Regions from separate parts of the Homo sapiens genome. Here region 1 is linked to region 2. A link means that fine-mapping ties the variant in region 2 to the expression of a gene that starts in the linked region. Tissue or cell type: whole blood. Region 2 holds a variant in brackets; the other region holds the start of a gene. All regions are shown on one strand. Distances are between the middles of the regions.

What was found. PIP is the estimated chance that this variant, and not a neighbour inherited with it, causes the effect.
Region 1: it holds the start of NDUFS1, and the variant in region 2 is fine-mapped to the expression of NDUFS1 in whole blood (INTERVAL, PIP 0.94).

What each region holds. Positions count from the first base shown.
Region 1 is chr2:206,157,126-206,163,225 of GRCh38, forward strand. It overlaps NDUFS1 (NADH:ubiquinone oxidoreductase core subunit S1), which reads right to left and starts at 2,319. Exons shown (of 19, transcript NM_005006.7): 1 at 2,216-2,319. It overlaps EEF1B2 (eukaryotic translation elongation factor 1 beta 2), which reads left to right and starts at 2,770. Exons shown (of 6, transcript NM_001959.4): 1 at 2,770-2,934; 2 at 3,463-3,585; 3 at 4,221-4,347; 4 at 4,913-4,979; 5 at 5,364-5,489; 6 at 5,604-5,803. The coding sequence starts at 2,855. The coding sequence ends at 5,758. It overlaps SNORD51 (small nucleolar RNA, C/D box 51), which reads left to right and starts at 4,756; the gene lies at 4,756-4,825. It overlaps SNORA41 (small nucleolar RNA, H/ACA box 41), which reads left to right and starts at 5,103; the gene lies at 5,103-5,234. RefSeq lists enhancers at 1,997-2,406, 2,517-2,776 and a silencer at 3,037-3,106.
Region 2 is chr2:206,278,781-206,286,364 of GRCh38, forward strand. ZDBF2 (zinc finger DBF-type containing 2) reads left to right here. Exons shown (of 5, transcript NM_020923.3): 2 at 760-812; 3 at 3,021-3,129. The coding sequence starts at 3,070. Among named protein-coding and RNA genes, the nearest start is that of ZDBF2, 7.9 kb to the left of the region's middle. The variant C/A (reference allele first, on the strand shown) is at 3,482.

The sequences.
Region 1 (6,100 bases), 120 kb before region 2:
ATTTTCAGTAGAGAAGGGGTTTCGCCATGTTGGCCAGGCTGGTCTCAAACTCCTGACCTCAGTGATCCACCCGCGTCGACCTCCCAACGTGTTGGGATTACAGACGTGAGTCACCGCGCCTGGCAGACAACCAATTTTAAAGCACTCTTTCTTTGAGCTCTTTTTCTTTAGTACCAGTACACACTGTGTAGATATTTTTGTTTTACTTACTAAACTGTAGGTTAGTAATCAATTTTAGTACCTACCAGACTGTAAGCTCCTTGAGGACAAGGAATTTGGACATTTCCCTTTTTTGAAGACCTAGCACAGGACCCTTATGAAAATAACCACCAAACAGTCTTATCACCAAGTTCTAGAACTAGAGTAGCATCTGTCCTATTAAAAACTACTGATGGCATAAATATAAACCTAAACTTACTCCATTAGAGCACTGACAGATTTGAAATCAACAATCAGTATTTCATACAATTTTAAAACTTTAATACTTTTTTATCTCCAATGCAATATAAAAATAGTACTCACTTTGGATAGGAAATCAACTAGAACTAGACTGTTGACATCCAGCAACAAAGCATAGCCCAACATAAGAAATACAGATTTGCAACACTTCGATATGTGCTTTGAACATTGATATGCCAAGTAGCAATAGAAATAATTATCTCTTTGGATGGAAAATGTTAATGACTAATCATTTCTTAAACTAGACTGGATACTTTTCCATATAGGGACTATGCTATTCCACGTTCTCCAACATGGATCCATCCATTTACTTCTTGCCTTCCAAGGTACCACCCTATCCCAATCCACCATCACTCCTTGCCTGGAGTATTTCAATAGCTTTTTTTTTTTTTTTTTTGAGACAGAGTCTCGCTCTGTCGCCCAGGCTGGAGTGCAGCGGAGCGATCTCGGCTCACTGCAAGCCCCGCCACCCGGGTTCACGCCAGCCTCCTGCCTCAGCCTCCCAAGTAGCTGGACTACAGGCGCCCGCCACCACGCCCAGCTAATTTTTTGTATTTTTAGTAGAGACAGGGTTTCACCGTGTTAGCCAGGATGGTCTCGATCTCCTGGCCTCGTGATCCGCCCGCCTCGGCCTCCCAAAGTGGTGGGATTACAGGAGTGAGCCACCGCCTCCGGCCTTCAATAGCTTAACAGGTCACCAAGCTTCCACACTATTCCCACACAGCCTCTCCCCTCTTGCCACCGGCTGTGACCTCAGACTGAAATGCTCTTCCCTGGCCCCTCCTTATCCTTCAAATCTTGGCTTAAAAGCCTTTTCTCAGTTTCATTGACCAGGCTATCTAACATTTACGATTCCCCCAGCATATCATCCATTTTATTCTTCTTTACGGACTCATTTCTGGCTCGTAGTAAATGTTCAATAACGGTTAAGTGAACTGAATCTCTAATTTCTGGTCGTTAATTTGTAGAGACCACTTTCCCGGATTTAAAAAGTGCAGGTGCTCTGGCAGCCTTAAGTCGGTGAAAACAAGAATATTCCGCAAAACAAAAATAACTTGTTTATTCATCAAAAACAGTTAACGTTACACTTCTATACCGTCAATTCGTGTGTGAACAGAGTTGTGTCTGATCCAAGACCTTACAGTTCAAGCACTGGATCCCAATAACCTGTAAACAACGTTTTGTTATTTGCAATGCAATCCTGGGCTAACTTTTCAAAAGTCGTTTTTCTCAATTTCCCGTTAGTTAAAGGAATAAAAAAATGCTGTCCAACGTGGTCAATGGACCAAACAAACAAGGACAACAAACAGAAGCGTGAGCCATTGCTAACACAACAGCGACCAAACAATCATGCACTGTATCAGGCGTGTAAAAATCTGGGGGGAAAGGCTTAGTCTTAAGGCCTAAGTCATCGGACACTGGTCCTCTCCCGGGGAATAAAACGGCCTCCTCCTCTGAGAGGGAAATGTCCTGAATTTTCCCTGCAGAGGGAAGGTCACCTGCAAGCCTACATTCGTGACAGCGTTCCCGAGGACCCCCTGATCCTCATCTTCTTTTCTGCTTCATCAGACCAGAGACCGTGGCTAAAAGCCCCCCATCTGCCGGCTCTCAGGGGCTTCCGAGGCGGCGGGGCGGGAGGCGGCGCCCAGTCAAGGACAACAGAAGACTACGTCGCGTGGGCCAAAGGAAACAGTCCCGTCAATAAATAAGCCTCTGGCCGACGCACCTCACCCTTCCCATCCATACAAGACCTCACCTTCTCCCCGGAGCCGCGGAGGCTGTTCTGCTAAACTGTCTGGACCACGACGACCCCCTAGGAGGCCGGGTCGCTTATTCAATATGGCGGCCTCGGCTAACTCTGTCAGCCGGGCCTGGAGAACGGAAAGCCCGGAGGGACTAGAATCCTTGCATTCGACAAGTTTGTCGGCAATTTCCGTCAGCCGACCAGAGGGCGGAGCTGAGGTCGGCCCAGCCCGGAGGCGGGAAGGACAACTTGGACCCGCAGTTCCGCCGGAAGTGGCCCCAGCCTCGAGGCCGGGCGTCTTCGGTCATCTCCGGCGCTTCTAGGGCTGGTTCCCGTCATCTTCGGGAGCCGTGGAGGTACGAACTTAAGACATGCCTATTTTATTAATTTACTTCCAAACGCAACGAAAGGTCCATGGACAATTTGTGGGCCATTTAATTCAGGGCCCCCAATTCGTACGTGGAGAAGTGGGAATGCAAAAGTACTTTGACCTTTAACCTTCGGTCCGGCGCGGTGGAGGGAAACGCCTCCGTCTCTATATAAGGAATTTTCCGGTCTCTTCGGGTCCTTTTTCCTCTCTTCAGCGTGGGGCGCCCACAATTTGCGCGCTCTCTTTCTGCTGCTCCCCAGCTCTCGGATACAGCCGACACCATGGGTTTCGGAGACCTGAAAAGCCCTGCCGGCCTCCAGGTGCTCAACGATTACCTGGCGGACAAGAGCTACATCGAGGGGTGAGCGGACGGGCTGAGTCGGGGTGGCGGGGAGGTTTCTCCGCCCGGGGCCGGGGCCACGTGGCGCAGCGTGTCGGCTGCCGCGGGAGGGAGGGAGGCCGGGCCCGGGGCCCTTTCGAGAGGGAGGGGAAAGCGCCCCGTTGCCGTCTCCCAAGGCCCTCGTGTGGGGCGAGCCCGGCCTCCGGGGAGCGGTTCACGAGCAAGGAAAGGTTAAAATGTGCTTTATTTACACTTAATTCAGCCAGGTGTTTCCGCATCGCTGCCCAGTTAATACATGTTAAGCTGTAGATAGAGCAACGCCAGACATTGCAGTATTTGAGGTCTACTTAGTGGCAGACATTTCTCAGGATAGCGCGGTGACCCAAACATATGGTTTGATTTGAAGGAGCTAATAAGAAAAGAAAAGCATTAAAGCAACCCTGCTGGGGTTAGTGCCCACTAATTAATGTGATGCATACGGTATTTATTATTTATTCGCTGGCGTTTGTTTTTCAAAGGTGTGTGTGAATGTTTCTGTGTCCTTGGCAGGTATGTGCCATCACAAGCAGATGTGGCAGTATTTGAAGCCGTGTCCAGCCCACCGCCTGCCGACTTGTGTCATGCCCTACGTTGGTATAATCACATCAAGTCTTACGAAAAGGAAAAGGCCAGGTAAAATCATCTTTGTATAGAGCTGAAGAATAAGACTGCTCTCGAAGTTTATCAGGATGTTCACATGACAAAACTGGACCCAGGCTACTTTAGTTTTGTTGGGATATTGTAAGCTAAATTTTTCTGTAACCTTAGAAGGCCAAGAGACTGAAGCCCTCCATTTTTTCACAGAACAGGTAGAACATGGACAGCAGCAATTCAACTTTTCCCCACACTGCCCTGCCAATGTGCCTCGACCTTGACCTGGGGGGCCCACCTCTGGGGTGAGAGGGTGGCTCATTCATTCAGTCCTTGGCCATTCTTCTGAAACTGCCAACAAGGGTGGAAGTTTGGGGAAGTGGACTCCAGTTCACTAAGAATGGAACTGAGCATACTTAATGAAATCTCAAACAGAAATGTTCATACTGAAAGAGTAAATCATAGTGAGTATTGAAAATAATGTCTCACATGGTACTAATGCTTGTCGGGTGAGGAGTTGAACATATGACAGTGTTTACCTGGGCGCATGTGAAAGGGTAAATTATGATTGCAAAAGGGATCTAGTGATAAGTAGTGATTAAAACAAGTTATTTTGTATTTTCTGGAAAAGGATGTTATACTAGCTCAATAGTGGTTGAATTTAAATGTTTTTCAAGCCTGCCAGGAGTGAAGAAAGCTTTGGGCAAATATGGTCCTGCCGATGTGGAAGACACTACAGGAAGTGGAGCTACAGATAGTAAAGATGATGATGACATTGACCTCTTTGGATCTGATGATGAGGAGGTATGGCGTCTTCTATAAAGAACATATCGGCCAGGCGCAGTGGCTCATGCCTGTAATCCCAGCATGTTGGGAGGCTGAGGCGGGTGGATCACGAGGTCAGGAGTTGAAGACCAGCCTGGCCAAGATGGTGAAACCCTGTCTGTACTAAAAATACAAAAAAATGTGGCAGGCATCTGTAATCCCAGCTACTCAGGCGGCTAAGGCAGAGAATTGCTTGAACCTAGGAAGCGGAGGTTGCAGTGAGCCAAGATCGTGCCACTGCATCCAGCCTGGGCGACAGAGCGAGACTCCGTCCCAAAAAAAAAAAAAAAGAATACATCGATCAGCAATTGTATCAATGTGGTTAAGCCAAATTGCCTGGATTTGAATCCTGGCTTTAATTTATATGCCTTTTTCAAATTCTGACTGGTTGCATGATGAATAAAATCAAATCACCATCTTTCGGCTGAGTTCGTGATGGATTTGCTTTTTTCTGATTAAGCCAGTCTTTTTTGTGATGACCCCACTAGCTTTAAGCAGAGGAACAACCAGCTTTCTGAAGTGGATTAATTTTTTTTCTTTACAGGAAAGTGAAGAAGCAAAGAGGCTAAGGGAAGAACGTCTTGCACAATATGAATCAAAGAAAGCCAAAAGTAGGTCATTTGTTTTTAACTTCATTTCATGTTAATGTAAGTAATCTTTTTCAAAGCTTGACCTTGAAGTAATTTCCTCCACATTCCTTGAATAGGTCAATATTTTAAAACCTGTACAGGTTCTTCCACAGCTACTGGTCTGCAGCTGTTCTTATGGTAGCAGTTGTGGCATTCCTCTGTGGGAAAGAAACTGTTAACACAAACACCTCTTTCTTAGCAAAACAGAAAGTGGGTATATATGTGTGACAGACACAAGATGTATCTGTAGTTTTGTTTGGCTAAGGAGATAGTCTCAAAACAAATTGAGATGGATTTGTTTGTGTCTTGGAGTAGGGTGAAAAAAATACAATTCATTATTTGAATAATGCTGTTTATTGTTTTTAGAACCTGCACTTGTTGCCAAGTCTTCCATCTTACTAGATGTGAAACCTTGGGATGATGAGACAGATATGGCGAAATTAGAGGAGTGCGTCAGAAGCATTCAAGCAGACGGCTTAGTCTGGGGCTCATGTGAGTTTAGGCTTTGCCTTTTTTTTTTTGAAACTAACATCTGGAATTTGCCTACAGTTTCAACCTTTCCTACAAGACTTTTCTAACTAGGATTTTTCTTAATGCTCTTTTTAGCTAAACTAGTTCCAGTGGGATACGGAATTAAGAAACTTCAAATACAGTGTGTAGTTGAAGATGATAAAGTTGGAACAGATATGCTGGAGGAGCAGATCACTGCTTTTGAGGACTATGTGCAGTCCATGGATGTGGCTGCTTTCAACAAGATCTAAAATCCATCCTGGATCATGGCATTTAAATAAAAGATTGAAAGATTACCTTTGGCTCTTGAGTATGTTACATAGGAGGGTGGTGTATATATTCCTTTCATTTTGGGGGAAGGAATTAAATGAATATGTGATTCCTAAATACCCCAAATTTGGTTTGGCATTGTTGTTAGAAAATTGCAGTGCAGGCCAGGTGTGGTGGTTCATGCCTGTAATCCCAGCAGTTTGGGAGGCTGAAGTGGCTGGATCGAGACCAGGAGGCTGATACCAGCCTGGGCAATGGGGAGAGATCCTGTCTCTACAAAAAATATAAAAATTAGCTGGACATGGTAGTGCACCCCTGTATTC
Region 2 (7,584 bases):
GAACTTTGCGTTGAACTCATTAGCATTTATTATTTTTGCTGAGGCATTTCTTAGGCAGCACCTCATTCTTTGGCTTTAATTTCCCAATTTCATTTTAAATTTTTTGAGGGTAAGAAAACTTGTCTCATATTTGTCTCTATCCCTTAAAGTTTCTAGCATGGAACTCTGTGCTGAGTGGGTGCTTAATAGTTATTCTTTGATTATACCGTGGTGTCACTGGCTCTCTTGAGCCTATGTGTTGGAATTTTTTCTTAACCAGTGATCCTGGATAAGGAGCAGCACTTTGCCTACAACAATGCGGAGGAATAAAAAACATGCTTCTGCTTAATAGTGTATTGATATAGATAGGTGTTAAAAGAATTGACAGTATTTTTCATTAAAGCTAACGTGGTACCTGAGCCTCGGGAAGTTTCTCATGAAGCTCATTTTGGGTTTGACAGCATTTTTGCTCTCAACTTTACCAGAGGCACAATTGAGCCTTATAGTCTTTTACAGCTACTGTTCCAGGAACCTAGAGACCTGCAGTGTTTGATGGTGGGTTAGATGGGCCATCACAGTCACTGCGCCAGAACTTTAGGAGGTCATGTGTGAGATTCAGTGAGTCATAGTATGTAAAGTGCTTTGTACTCCAAAGTTAATATTTTTTCTTATATTATTGGAAACATGTCACCGTTCACAATATATCTGGATGTATTTATTTGGTCAATGGTAGACACTTATGGGACCTCTTCTAAAAAATGATTTTATTTTAATTTACAGATACTTGCCAGAACTAATACAGCTGATGAAATACCTGACCTTTTCTGCTCCAGGTAAATAATTTTTTACTTTATAAAAATATCAGGTTCTAGGAGAATTCAGAGTTTGTATAAAAATACCTATTTAGGCATGCAAAGTAATATAAATCCAGACCCTAAAGAAATGATCCCTTTAATAAATAAGTTTTATTAGTTTATAAAAAATAATGACTTATGTTATTGAGTCAACTTACAGCAGAATCACCTTGAGCATTTTATTTTATTCTATTTTATTTTATTTTTTCGAGACAAAGCCTCGCTCTGTCACCCAGGCTGGAGTGCAGTGGTGTGACCTCGGCATGCTGCAGCCTCCACCTCCTGGGTTCAAACGATTCTATTGCCTCAGCCTCCCGAGTAGCTGGGACTATAGGCATCTGCCACCACACCCAGCTAGTTTTTGTATTTTTAGTAGTGACAGGTTTTTGCCATGTTGGCCAGGCTGTTCTCAAACTCCTAACCGCAGGCGATCCACCTGCCTCGGCCTCCCAAAGTGCTGGGATTACAGGCATGAGCCACCATGCCCAGCTGCCTTGAGCATTTTAAATATGCTTTATAACGTATGTCCTGGGTTCCCTTGACCACTGGGATTTTGATTTGCTAAGTTTCTGATGGGGTCCTGGCATGTTAATTTTTAAAAATGCCAACACATGCTTCTGGTTTATTGTAACTCACTGTCATTAAGGCACTAGAGATGACGGAAGTGGCAGGTGATAATGCCACAGGAGTTAAGGGCCATAGGGTTAAAGACCAAAAATATTTAAGTATTTACATTTTGTGTGTATGTGATATTAGATTAATGGTTTACTTTTGTCCTTTATTCAATGAATGTTTTAATTATATTTTCAATCCCCCAAAAGTTTATTTTAGGATTTTTCAAAGTTTACATTTAAGCTCTAGGTTCTCTCAGCTTGAAATTTGCCTTATGTGTAAGTACAATTTAAAATAAAAGTTTGTTCTGTTTTATTGCTGTAGGTTAATAAGTGAAGTAAATTAGTGGAAAAGAGACCAAATTTTAAGTAAGTAATGTCTTACATGTTTTTTGTGTCAGAGGCTGGTTTAATTGATTAATTTTCCTCATAAATGTGAGAAGTCAGAAAATCAATTTCTCATAATAAGAAGTAATAGGTAAGTAAATATTATGCTAGCATTTTGACTTAATGAAGCTTTTTTCCCCTCATCTTATGGTTTTAAGGCTGTGATTTCATTTTTCAGTTATTGATTTTAATGATTAAATTTTTTCCATTGCAGAAATTCTCATAACATGTTATAGAATGATTGTTATATATTTTCCAACAGATAAGAATGCTTAAATTAATTGAAATACAAAATTATTTGTAATTCTGTTTTCGGCTTAACAAAGCAGCAAATAAACTGCATTAAATTTTTTACTTAAAATAATCATAAATTATATGTACATTGTGTCAGTTAATACATTGGTAGGGCATGAAAATTACTGGGGGAATTTTAAAAATTCTGAATCCTAGGCTCACCCTAGCTCTACTAAAATTTTGGGTATTCAGCCTGGTTTGGGAACCATGCAGTATGTAATGTTGAAGGATTATACTTTTAGGTGAGTGGAAACTGGAAAACTATTTATTTGTAGAGAAATCTAAACAGTAATAGGAAAAAAATCCCTCCTATTTATCTGGCTTACATAATTGTCAGAAGAAAAGTGTTTTGTGTTTCAGAGGCTAAATTAGTTGTTCTGATTTTTAGCAACTGTGTTGGATAAATTATTTAAAAACCTGCCTCTCTATGAGCTGAGCAGAAAATGCCATGTGGTGTCTTTACACTCATGATAACAGAGAATGAGACGTTGTCAAATAATCTGGGGTTTGATATGGAAACATGATGGGGAAATTAATGAGCTCCATTAGAGTATAGTAAATATACCATAACAATATCTTAGAAGTAATTGGTCTTCGCAAATTGAATATTGTATTCTTTGTTACTAAATCAATATCTAATATCTCTAATAAGTTATTAGAAAAACTAAATATTCAGTCATCTAGTCTTCAAACATTGGCAACAAACTGCTCTTTCATAAGATACATAGTTCTTGTCTCTGCTCCAGGTTCACTTATTTATTCAGTGGCTCATGGCAGCCTTGTATATTTTCCTAATTATTAGAAGTGAATTTCTGTTTTCTGCTAATTATCATAGCCATTTTCCTCATAAGAGTAAGGAATTATGATTTTTACCATTTTTCTTTTTGTTTTTCAGCTTGAGTATTCAAAGACAGTAGCCATCTGACTTCAGTTATTTATTCAAGATGCAGAAAAGACAAGGATATTGCAGTTATTGCCGTGTGCAGTATAATAACCTGGAACAGGTGAGCGGTTTCTATTAATATGATAATATCTCAAAGGACCTAGTTGTGACTTTCTCTTACATTTTATTAAATTAATTTATTTATTCATTGAACAGATCATATTGGGAATCTATTAGTTGGCAGACACTGTTTAAGGTTCTAGGGATATGACCATGAACAAAAACCAAGCCTCTTTTTTCATGAAGCTTATATTCTAGTATAGTAAGACAGAAGATAAATAATATATAAATTTAGTACATAATGCGTGAGATTGTGATAAATGTTATGAGGAAAACAAAATAGGGAAGGGGTAGGGTGGCCAGGTAAGGCCTTTTTAAGGAAGTGACATTGAGTTGAGATTTGGAGTTTGGGT[C/A]TCAGGTTTGCATTTATCTGGGGAAAGATTTTCTAGGTAGAGGGAAGAGACAGAGACCCTGAGGGTACAGAGTGGTTGGCACACTAACGAAGAGCCAGGAGGCCGGTGGCTGCATGGATGTGGGGAGGTGGGTGAGAAGTAATAGGCAAAGAATTCAGACAAATCAATTCTGTATTTTAGATTCAGGGGGTATATGGGCTTGTTTGTTACATGGGTATATTGCATACCTGCTGGGGATTGGGCTTCTAGTATACCCATTACCCAAATCGGAGAAGTCGATTCTTTAAGACATTGTAGGCTAAGGTAAGGACTTTGAATTTTATTTCAAGTGAGATGGGAGAGCATCTCAAAGTTTGAGCATAGGAGTTAAATCGTCTACTTTGTGTTTTAAAAGGTTCATTCTGGCTGCTGAGGGAAAAATAGTTGGTATAGAGATTTAAAAATTTTGTTATTGTGATATAACTCATACACCATAAACTTGACCCTTTAAGGTGTATAATTCAGTGATGTTTTATTATGTTCACAAAGTGGTACAACCATTGTCTAATTCCAGAACATTTTAATCACCCTAAAAGGAAACCCTGTACGCACTGAGCAGTAACTCACTCCTCCCTTCTGTCACCAGCCCCTGGCAACCGCTAGTGTATTTCCTGTCTGTATAGATTTGCTTATTCTGGATATTGCGTGTAAATGGAATCAAACGTTGTGTGGCCTTTTGTGTCTGGCTTCTTTAATGTAGCGTAATATTTTCACGGTTCATCCAGGCTGTAACATGCATCACGACCTCGTTCCTTTTTATGGCTGACAATGTTCCATTGCATGGATATATCACATTTTGTTTATTCATTGAGCAATTTATGGATATTTGGGTTGTTTTTACTTTTTGACTGTTATGAATAGTGCTGCTATGGATATATGTGTACAAGTTTTTGTGTGGACGTATGCTTTCACTTTTCTTAGGTTTACATGTAGAGTGGAATTGTTGGGTCATGTGGTAATTGTGTTTAACTTTTTTGAGAGGGTGCCTCACCGTTTGTCAAAGTGGCTGTACCTTACCACCAGCAATGTATGAGGGTTCCAGTTTCTCCACGTTCTTGTCAGCACTTGTTGTTGTCTGTTTTGTTTTTTGTTGTTGTTGTTGTTGTTGTTATAGCCATCTTTGTGGATGTGAGATGGTATCTCATTTTGGCTTTGATTTGCATTTCCCTAATGACATATAGTGTCTTTTCATTGGGCATTTGTATATCTTGTTTAGAGGAATGCCTCTTCATATCCTTTTCCTATTTTTAATTGTGTTGTCTTTTTATTGTTGAGTTGTAGAAGTCTTTATATATTTTGGATAATTGACCTTTATCAGATGTATGATTTACAAATACTTTCTCCATTCTGTGGGTTGTCTTATTACTTACTCTTTTTTTTTGAGACAGGGTCTTGCATTATTGCCCAGGCTGGAGGGCAGTAGTGCGATCATGGCACACTGTAGCCTCTGCCTCCTGGGCTCAAGCAGTTCTCCTGCCTCAGCCTCCCAAGTACCTGGGACTACTGGTGTGCACCACCGTACCCAGCTAATATTTTATTTTTTGTAGAGATGGGGTCTCACTATATTTCCCAGGCTGGTCTCAAACTCCTGGGCCCAAGTGATTCTCCTGCTTTGGCCCCTGAAAATTTTGGGATTACAGGTGTGAGCCACCACAACTGGCCTTCTTTTTACTTTCATGATGCTATGTTTTGATGCACAAAAGTTTTAAATTTTGCTGTTTTGCTTATGTTTTTTGGTGTCAGAAGGGTTGCCTAATCTCAGGATGGAAGATTTATGCCTATGTTTTCTTCTAAGAGTTTTACAGTTACTCTTACATTTAGGTCTTTTATCTGTTTGAGTTCATTTTTGTATAGGGTGTGAGATAGGGCTATACTTTTTTTTTTGAGTCTGTAAAATTAAATCTGTTTCATAGAAATCATGTTAAAATTCATGCGCATCAGAGCTCTCCCTGTGCTACCCATAGTGGATGTATGTATGTATGTATGTATTTATATTGATTTGTTTACTTTTATTATTTTTATAATTATACATATGTATGGGGTACAGTGTGATATTTTGATACATGTGTATAATGTGTAATAATCAAATTGGTAATTAGCATACTCATCACCTCAAACTTTTATCATTTCTTTGTGTTGGAAACATTTAAAATCCTCTCTTCAACTGTTTGGAAATTTACAATCAATTATTATTAACTATAGTCATCCTACAGTGTTGTATAGGACTTTAGAACAACTAGAACATATTTCTCCTATCTAGCTTTAATTTTGTATTCATTAATTATCCTCTCCCAATTTCTCTTCCCTGACTTCTTCCCAGCTTCTAGTAATCAGCATTCTATTCTCTAGTTTTACGAGCACAACTTTGATGACAAGATTTTCTTCTTTTATGGCTGAATCGTATTCTACTGTGTATATATACCACATTTCCTTTTTGTGTGTGTGTGAGATGGAGTCTTGCTCTGTCACCTAGGCTGGAGTGCAGTGGCATGATCTTGGCTCACTGCAACCTTCGCCTCTTGGGTTCAAGCAATTCTCCTGCCTCAGCTTCCCGAGTAGCTGGGATTACAAGAGTGCACCAACACACCTGGCTGATTTTTGTATTTTTAGTAGAGATGGGGTTTCACCATGTTGGCCAGGCTGGTCTCGAACTCCTGACCTCAGGTGATCCACCTGCCTCAGCCTCCCAAAGTGTTGGGATTACAGGCGTGAGCCACTGCGCCTGGCCCCTTTTTTCTTTTATCTGTTGATGGACACTTAGATTGATTCTATATCTTAGCTATTGTGAACAGTGCTGTAGTAATAAACATGGGGATGCAGATATCTCCTTGATATACTGATTTCCTTTCCTTTGGATAAATACCTAATCAGTAGGATTGCTGGACCATATGGTAGTTATATTTTTAGGTTTTTGAGAACATTTATACTCTTTTCCATAATGACTATAATAATTTGTATTCCCACCAACAGTGTGTAAGAATTCCCTTCTCTGCATCCTTGCCAGTGTGTTATTTTTTGTCTTTTCGATAATAGCTATTCTAATTGAAGTGAGATGATATCTCATTGTGGTTTTGATTTACACTTCCTTGATGATTAGTGATGTTGAACATTTTTTAATATACTTGTTGGCCATTTATATGACTTTTTGAGAGATGTCTTTTCAGCTTATTTGCCCATTTTTAAGTTGGATTATTTCCTTTTGTTGTCATTGAGTTGTTTGAGTATTCCATATTCCAGGTATTAATCATCTTTTGGATGAATGGTTTGCAAATATTTTCTCCCATTCTTCAGTCTGTTGAAGTCTCTCTTCACTCTGTTGATTGTCCTTTGCTGTGCAAAAGCTTCAGTTTGATATTATCCAGTTTGTCTATTTTTGCTTTGTTCCCTGTCCTTTCGAGGTCTTTTCCGTAAAATCTTTGCCCAGACCACTGTCCCAAAGCATTTCCCCTGTGTTTTCGTCTAGTAGTGTCATAGTTTTGGGGCTTACATATATGTCTTTAATACATTTTGAGTTGATTTTTGTGTATGGTGAGAGATAGGGGTCTAGTTTCACTTTTCTGCATATAGATATCCAGTTTTCTCAGCTTCATTTATTAAAGAAGCTGTTCTTTCCCCCAACTTATGGTATTGGTGCCTTTGTCAAAAATCAGTTGGCTGCAAATACATAGATTTATTTCTGGGTTTTCTGTTTTGTTTCATATCTGTACATTTTCAGAAGTTCCTCTTGTTACTGATTTCTAGTTTATGCTATTGTGGTCAGAAAAGATACTTGATATAATTTCAATTCTTTTGTATTTGGAGACCTCTTTGTGGCCTAATATGTGGCCTATCCTGGAAAATGTTGCATGTGCTGATGAAGCAAATGTGTATTCTGTAGCTGTTGGTTGAAATCTTCTGTAAATATCTGGTAGGCCTATTTGGTCTAAAATGCAGTTTAAATCAAGTGTTTCTTTGCTGATTTTCTATCTAGATGATCTGTCCAATTCTGAGAGTGTGATAATCAAGTCCTCAGCCAGTCTAATAGTATTTGCTTTATTTATCTAGGTGCTCTGGTATTGAGTACA